2 separate regions of the Homo sapiens genome follow, and region 2 is reported to be linked to region 1. Evidence: microRNA targets listed by miRTarBase, many of them from high-throughput screens and not tested one by one. Region 1 holds a microRNA gene; the other region holds the end of a gene's coding sequence.
Evidence for each region. The annotated mature microRNA hsa-miR-4299 reads GCUGGUGACAUGAGAGGC and lies in region 1 at 2,601-2,618, opposite strand. An mRNA with a match to its seed (bases 2 to 7 or 8) in the 3' UTR can be bound and repressed. Matches are read on the target gene's strand: a 7mer-m8 pairs with bases 2 to 8, a 7mer-A1 pairs with bases 2 to 7 and ends in A, and an 8mer does both.

Region 1 (4,524 bases):
AATAAGAGCATAGACAAATAAATAGTGGTATGTCCATAAAATGGATTACTGTTTGTTAGGCAAATAAAAAAGGAACAGACTACTATTACAAGACAGCCTTGTGTTCACTAGTGCCTACTTGGGTGTATATAATCATGAAAACTCACTGAATAGACAAAATAAGATTTGCACATTTTATAGTATATAAATTATATTTCAATATGAAAAGTGTAATGGGAAGTTGCTGAAGAGTTTTCAAAGTAAGGAAAAAATGTAATTTGATTTTTTTTTTACAGATTCCTCAGATCACTTTGTGAAAATAGATTTGAAGGGAGCTTAAGAACAAGTAGGGTGACCAGTAAAGGGGTTAATGCCATAGTCCAAGAAAAAGATTCTGAAGGCTTAGACTAGTGAGGAATAACAGAAGCCAACAGACAGACTTAAGATATACTTAGGAGATAGAAATGACAGGATTTATTGATTTTTTAAAAAGATGAGGTGTAAGAATCACTTGAACCCAGGAGTTTGAGACCAGCCTAGGCAACATAGCAAGAACCCCTCTCTACAAAAAAAAAAAAAACAAACCAAAAAGACATTGAATTAGCCAGGCAAGGCGGTGTGCATCTGTAGTCCAAGCTACTTAGCAGACTGAGGTGGGTGGATCTCTTGAGCCCAGGAGGTCAAGGTTGCAGTGAATTATGATAGCACCACTGCACTCCAGCCTGGACAACAGAGAGAGATTCTGTCTCAAAAAAAAAAAAAAAAAAAAAACAACAACAAAATGAAGAAATAAAGGATAAGACTTACATTTTTGGCTTGAGCAAGTGGGTGGAGAGTCTTGCCATTTACTAAAATGAATAGGTAAACTATGAGAGGAGCTGGTTGAAGATACTACAGGGGAAAGAAAATCAAGAGTTCTGTTCTGGCATTGAAAACACATGAATATAAAGATATGAACAACAGACATTGAGGACCACAAGAAGGAGGAGGGAGTGAGGGCAGCAAGGGCAGGTAGAAAGTTGGATATGTGTATCTAAAGGTCAAAGGAGAGATTGATCTGGATATATAAATTTAGACAACATCAGCATGCAGATGATATCTTGGGCCATGAAAATAAATCATTTAGGAAGAGAGTGCAGACAGAATAAGCACTGTAAAAAAAAAAAAAAAGCAATATGTAGACATTGGTACAGGAAGAGCACCTATAAAAGAGACTGGGATGAAATTGTCAGAGATCTAGAGAAAGGAAGAAAACCAAAGGTGGACTGTCAAATAAAGGAGTGGCCACTGGGATACAACTCAAGTGAGAAACTGAGCAAAATGAGAGTATAAATTGTCCATTGGACTTGGCAACCTGGAGATTGTTGGTAACCTTGACACAAGAAGTTTGGGTGAAGTGTTAAAGTCAGAGACCCAACTCGAGAGTCTGAAAACTAATTAAAGGCTTAAACCATGGAACAAGTATGTAAACAGCTATTTTGAGATGTTAAACTGTGAAGCGATGCAGAGAAATGGGCAGTAGCTGAAGAGGGATGAAGGAATCAAAAAAGGACTTTTAGGCTTAAGGGAATGTCAATCGTGTTTGTGAACTGAAGAGACTAGCCCTAGAGAAGAGGGTAGGATTGGTAATTTAGGATGAATAGGAGATAGCCAGAGGAGTAAAACCTTGAGAAGGTAAGAAAGGACAGGATCTAGAACTCCAGGAGTATCCAGCTCCAGGAACTGGGGTGGGAACAGCATATTTTCACCTTTATACCAGAAGGACCAGAAGCAGAAGACCCAAATGAACTCAGATGTAAGCTAGGGGCATTTATGGCTGATGGTTCTAATTTTTTTAATTAAATACAATTGAAACAGGATAATTAGATCAGAGTGAAGGGTGCAGGAATGGAGTAGGGAATTTGAGAAGATAGGCAAAGGTAGGAAATAGCATCCTAAATGATGGAAAAGCAAGTTTATTAACTACAGTTTGAATACCAAGTGGTGGGTTGAGATTATGCATTTAAAAAGAAGCTTCTCAGTTTGTGTGATTTTCTCCAGCAACATACAGTTGCTCAAATTCTGGCAGGTAATGGGTTGAGTACATTCAGCTTGGAGTTTTGCCAAGTGAGTATGACAGCTATAGAGAGAGACACAGAATGACTGAACAAGTGATGAAAACTGTGGACCATATAAAGAATGCTCGACAGAAGGAACATGTTGACAAAAGGGCAGGTTCTCACTCGATTTCCAGTCTCTGGATCTGGGCTTCCCTTCCCTTCCATCTCCCCACAACCACACACACTGCATTTGGATACATGTATGCCTCTCTCTATTCTAACTGGAGGTTGGAAGAGAGATTTAATCAGCTCCCAGCCCAGCTTCTGGAGTGAAGTCTTGGTCTCCTCTGACTTACAGATGCAGATTCAGCATACAGTACTGAGCACCTCTGAACCCATCCCCGTGCCCAGATTGAAACTTCATGTGGTACCCTGGTTCAAAGAACAGGGCTATCATCACCTAGAACCCCTTTCTCAGACCTATGCTTCCATAAAGTAGAGACCCTCAAACTAGTGGCTAGAGTTCTCCTGCCTGCCACCAACCTTCTCACATCAGGGCCTCCCCACCATGGTCCTTTTTCTGCCTCTCATGTCACCAGCTCTCTCTAAAGGAGAAAACACTGTAACATGATTGGTCAGAACCCAAACAATCAATGGACCATATTTTACTAATAGGCTTGATCAGTTTTGTAGGTGGTGTTTTGTTTCCTATTTGACCATTGTTCCTTGTGGGCACCTTCCTTAGAGAATAATCTAGTGGGAAGAAGGGTTGGCATCTAGGCAGGCCTGTGTTCCTGGCCATCATGTCATTATAGCAGAACCCAAAGCTCACTTTGACTCCTCAACCACCCAACAACCTACCAGGATTCCTGGTTAAATGCACCGTAAATTCCCCATGAATTAGCCCTACCCTCTTAATGATATCCCCAAACCTTCATTTTGACACCCACTACAACATTACTTATTATAAATCGAGTTGGGTCCCCAAAAAAGATATGTTGAAGTCCTAACCCCCAATACCTCAGAATGTGACCTTATTTGGAAATTGGGTCATTGCAGATGTAATTTCTTAAAACAAGTCATACTGGAGTAGGGTAGGCCCTTAGTCCAATATGGTTGGTGTCCTTGTGAGAAGAGAAGAGCTGCAGAGACTCAGGTACACAAGGGAAGAATACCATGTGACAACCGAGGCAGAGACTGAGGTATGCAGCTCCAAGCCAAGGAATGCCAAGGATTGCTGGCAAAGCACCAGAAGCTAGGAAGAGGCAAAGAAAGATTCTCTCCTACAGGATCAGAAGGAACATGATCCTGCTATCACCTCAATTTTGGATTTCTGCCTCCAGAACTATGAGACAGTAAATATCTGTTGGTTTAAGTCACCGAGTTTGTGTTGTGTTCCAGGAAGGGTCTACATGACATGTGGCCATGACATCTATCCAGCTCAGGAAACACGGAGTGCTCCAGCCAGCCCAGGAGGAAAGCACCTGTTTCCTTACTAGCAGCGCAAGAAAGAATTCTGAAAGAGAGCAAGAACGGCTCACATTGAGCCATCTGCATAGTGACCCAGGGAAGCCAGGGCCCCTGGGTGCCATGTCTCTGCACACTAGAGCAGAGACCACACTCCTCAGGCCACCCAGCATGTCAAGATGTGTGAGGGCGAGATGCCAGGACCCTAGAGGGACTAAACTGTCAGCAAAATGAAAGAAAGTCTGTTTAACTTCCTCTCAAAAATGAATGACTAAGCCAGGTCCAGTGGTGCCCACCTGTAATCTCAGCTACTCAGCAGGCTGAGGCAGGAAGATCTGGAGCCCAGGAGTTCAAGGCTGCAGTGAGCTATGATCACACCATTGCACTCCAGCCTGGGCAACAGAGTGAGACCCTGTCTCTAAAAAAATAGAAATAAATAAAAAGAAAAATCAAAATTATCTTCTTTAAAAAACTATTTACTATCAGAGACAGAATAAATTTTTAGAAGCCTGCTTGATGTTTGAATATCATGAAAGATTCTTGGTCTCTGTAAGGTAGACTAAAAGAATCACAAATAAAGACTCAGCTGAGTTAAAAATTGGAAAACAAAGGGAACTGGATGAAATTTAAAAGACATAAAGTTACAATGGAATAAAAATAAAGTAGCAAAACATTTTAAATAGCCCTAAAGGACAATAAATGACAATGATTAGCAAAATTGACCCTCCAAAAAATATCATCTGCAATATAGAGAGCACATTTAGGAAAATCTCCAAGATTAGTGATGAAAGAAAACAGGAGCTGAGAAGGATGAGCGAGGAGGCGATAACCATGGAAACAGATATTGAACATCAAATCACAAAAAGTACTCAGAAAGCAAGAAGCACATCCTGATCTAGCATCTAAGGGATTAGTCCAATGTACAAGGCCACTCTTAGGCCAGAGGGGTCCCTGCCCTGGCTCCCAGATTTTAGAGAGTCCTGCTTTGGCCCTTCCAGGCCATGCCCCTCTCCATGAAGCAAAGTCATGGAGCCAACAC
Region 2 (4,000 bases), not on the chromosome of region 1:
CTAGGTGTGGCAACCTAGGTTTTATTCTTGGGGTTTGCTTTTCTTGTGTAGGAGATGTGGCCCTGATATTTCAGGCAGGGCTAGTAGATAGATTATGTATGAAGGTGGTTCTCAAAATTTGGCAGGTAGCAGAATCATCGGGGCGTCTTATTAAAATAGCGATTTCTCTCAGCATTCCTGCATTGGTGGTGGGGCGGGGGGAGAGGAAACCTGAGAATTTGTAGTTTTCAAAAGTTCCCAAATAATGCTGATGCAAATAATCTGAGGACCACATTTTGACAACCACTGGTGAAAGGGTATGAATACATCTTTGAGGCAGTAGCCACTAGAGGTTTAGAAGCAGATGTGGGAAAGATTAATTGATAGAGCTAGATAATATGTTTTGGGTCATTTTCCTGCAGAAGGTTGGGCCACTAGGCTTTAGTGAGGTGTGAGCCTTGGGCCTGGTTCTGCTGGAGTATTAAGGGGTGAGGCCTGATCTGCTGGAGAAAGGATGGAGTTAAGGGAATGAGCCACCTGGGGCCCTAGTGTCTCCTGTCTCCTTCCTTTTACAGGTGCTGGGCCTGGTGCGAGTGCCCCTGTATACCCTGCGGGATGGTGTAGGAGGCCTGCCTACCTTCCTGGAGAATTCCTTTATTGGCTCTGCGCGGGAGCAGTTACTTGAAGCTCTCCAGGACTTGGGACTGCTGCAGTCTGGCTCTATTTCAGGCCTTAAGATTCCAGCTCATCACTAGAGGCAGCCCTCCATGGACCCATGAAAACTGAGATGAGGACCTTGGTACTAGGGAGGGAGGGAAGGACGTGGGAATGTTTTCTTATTGGATCTGAGAGATGATACATGATACCAGATGAAAAGAAGGAGAAGTGTGTACCATATGTTTTGAGCAGAGGACCCTCCAACTTATGGCATCAGGGGCAAAAAGTCACAGCTTATCCCAGGCACCCTGGCAGGTTCTCAGAGCCTGCCTCCTCCCTGTTTATATGCGTACAGCCTGGTAACCCCCAGGCATGCAAATATACAATCTGTAACAACACACAGCCTGACACCTTCCCCTGGTCATGTCCAGTTTAACCTTGAAGTGGCATTTGTCACACTACCCTGGTCCCTGATTGCAAGGAGCTTCTGAAGCAAGGGTGAATCCTTCCCACACTCCTCCATGGTTGCCCTCCAGGGTCTAGCCCAGCCTATTTGTTAGGGAGGATAGAGAAACAGAGCACCCCCTGTGCTTTCTGAAAATAGACTTGCTCTTGTCTTGAGTGGTGACCAAAGCAGTTGGCTCTTAAAAGGTGGGAGAGCAGCCCAACCAATCCCCAATCCTTTTCTTCTGAAACTGAGCAGGAAGGGTAAGGAAGTGGCTAGGTCTCCTTGGACTGAGCATGGACATGAGTCCTGTGAGGACTGGTGTCTCTCCTCTAGAGCTTTCATCTTTGGGATGCCTGAGACTCCGAGACTATCAGAAGGGAATTGACCCACCCCAGTCTAGCACCACCCTGCCTTCACTTCATCTACATAAAGGTGGTATAAAAACATAGACTGGAGGAGGTAATCCATGGAGAGAGAAAAAGAAGAGGGCTCAGGACAAGGCCCTGAGGAGGCCCAATCCTAAAAGTTTGGGCAGAGGGAACCAGGCACGTTAAAGAAGACAGAAAGCGGACTATGCAGAGTGCTTGTGAGGGTTTCACTAAAACAGAGGCAAAACTGTCCATTGAATTCAGTAACATGAAGTGTTTGATGACTATGATGGCAGCAGTTTCAGGAAGGGCGGTATGGAAGGCAGGCTGTACTGGTTGAGTGAATGGAAAGTTGGGGAGTAGAACGTGTGAGAAGTTGGCCTTCAAGGGGCTCAGGTTAATAATAGAGAGCTATGGAGTCAAGGCATGTTTAAGATGGGAGGTAGAGCATGCCAATATTGATGGCAACAGTCAAGATGGTGTGATGAGAGAGATGGGAGGGGCACAAAGAGGAGGACCCCTGAAGGAGCAGAGTCCATGAGAAAGAAGGAGGGATGGGACCTTTGTAGGAAGAGACACAGTCCTGCAGCCTCATATGGCTCAATAAAACAGAAAGGGGCAAGTATAGAAGATTAGGATGACTAAATTAATGGGGAAATGATGAAGGAGTTTGAATCTCTTCTTTGTGAAATGAAGTGAGACTATCAGCTAGTTGTGGGTGGAGTGTGTTCTCAGAAGGTATGAAGTAGATGTTTTCCTAGGTGTTGGAAAACAGGTTGATTAAGGCAACAGCAGAAGGGCAGGGCAAGGCTGAGCTCTGAGATGGTCAGTTTAGAGTAGGATGCTGGGCACTCAGGTGTGTGTGTGTTGAGTGGGGCTCTGCACACACCTGTCTTCCCCTCATCAGGATTCAGGAGCTGGGATGGGTACACTTACTGCAGTGTTGGGGTTTTGCCAGGGAAGTAAAAGGAGTTGAGAGAAAGATGGGTCAGTTCAGAAGACATACACAGGAGAAATTGTAGTGATGAAATGTGCAGTCTAAGGTTTAATCTGACCAAGAAATTGGAATTGAAAACAGGAGGTGACTAGGGAGGGATTAGGAAATTAGAGGTCTTGACAAGATAGAAACTCCAGCATGGTGAGGGGTTGGGCAGGGAGGTATATTTGAGCCAGACAGGAGTGCTTTGGAAATTGAGAGGTGGAGCAATCTCAGGTAAAGGCAAAATAGAGGGTATGACCTGGGGTTGCTGGCCAGAGCCAGGGAGGAGCCTTAAGAAGTGAAATCTAGGGTTGGCGAGGCTGGAGGGCAGGGTGAGCCTCCACATGGGTGCTGAAGCAAGAAACCGACAGATGTTGAGGAGAATGGTGTGACCTAGGAGTCAGCATCCTTGGTGAACAAGAGGAGTGGCCACAAGGCCAGTGGCACCTGCCAGAGGGGAAAGCAGGCATGACAGGATAGCATCTCCCAGGTGAGAGCCTTTTGAGGAAGGGAGGGTGGGCAGTGGTCTGGAAGCTTGATGCAGAGCAGTGTGGGTCCCACTGGCAGCCCTTGGTCTTAGAAGAATGGGAGTACCCAGTGGGGGAGCAGCTGTACAATGAGGTAGACTCCTAGAGGTTAATTATCATCTCCTAATCTTACCCTGACCCTTTTGTCAAACGTTATCTAGATTAAACCTCAGTATAGGCAGGCTGCAGGAAATGGACATTCCAGTGGCCCCTGGGGTTCCAGCCTGTAGCAGCTTCATCTGTGCTTTGTGCACTTGGTTCTCAGTCATCTCTGCAAGGGACCCTGACGCCTGGGAGATCAGAGCCACTGACCCTTTATGGCACTGCTAACAGACCCCTTCCCTCAGGTAATTCTGGATCCAGAACTCATTATGGGATGTAATCCAGGTCAACACTAATACCACTTGGAAGGTTCCGCTCTGTCTCACTCTGCTTGAGTATCCCACTGATCAGTCTCTCAGTGCCTGCCTACTGGGCAGCTCATCTGTCCACTTATTCGTATTAAATTTGCTTTTTATTTAGGTCTCTGGAGATGGTTGCGTGGGGAAGAGCCCATGACTTTCCTATATGATCCCTTGAACATACTCTCCAAGTCAGTAGATTACCTCTCAGGCAGCCTTCATAAAAGTGTTTCACTGTACTGGGGTTTGTGTTCATCTCACTCACATAGACAGTCTCTGGGTAGGCAGGTGGGGGGTGATACAAGTTCACACTCTGTGTTTCTCCTCCTGTTAGCCATTCCCACCCTGCTGATGTTTAAGGAAAGCCAGGGATGATGACCCACTTAAGCTTTCCTTGGCCTTGTTAAGTCCAATCATCTGGGGCAGGAAGAAGAGAAATGCTCATTGCAATCTTTGACCCCCACTAACTGCTGTGGTGACTTTGACCCAAGCCCTTGACCTCCTTTTCCTTATCTGAAATGTTGCTGTGATTCCTGTGGTGAGATCAGATGAGGCAGCACTTGGGATAAGCTTGCAGAGATGCATTGAGCGGTATGAAAGTACAGGATGCTATGTACTTTCCTGCTTCACAGCACATTTTG

Region 2: the mRNA of NUDT16 is a reported target of hsa-miR-4299. The part of its 3' UTR that is shown has no 7-base or 8-base seed match.

The regions. Positions count from the first base shown.
Region 1 is chr11:11,654,061-11,658,584 of GRCh38, forward strand. It overlaps MIR4299 (microRNA 4299), which reads right to left and starts at 2,662; the gene lies at 2,591-2,662.
Region 2 is chr3:131,382,608-131,386,607 of GRCh38, forward strand. It overlaps NUDT16 (nudix hydrolase 16), which reads left to right. Exons shown (of 3, transcript NM_152395.3): 3 at 555-4,000. The coding sequence ends at 734. Among named protein-coding and RNA genes, the nearest start is that of NUDT16, 2.8 kb to the left of the region's middle. RefSeq lists an enhancer at 1-175.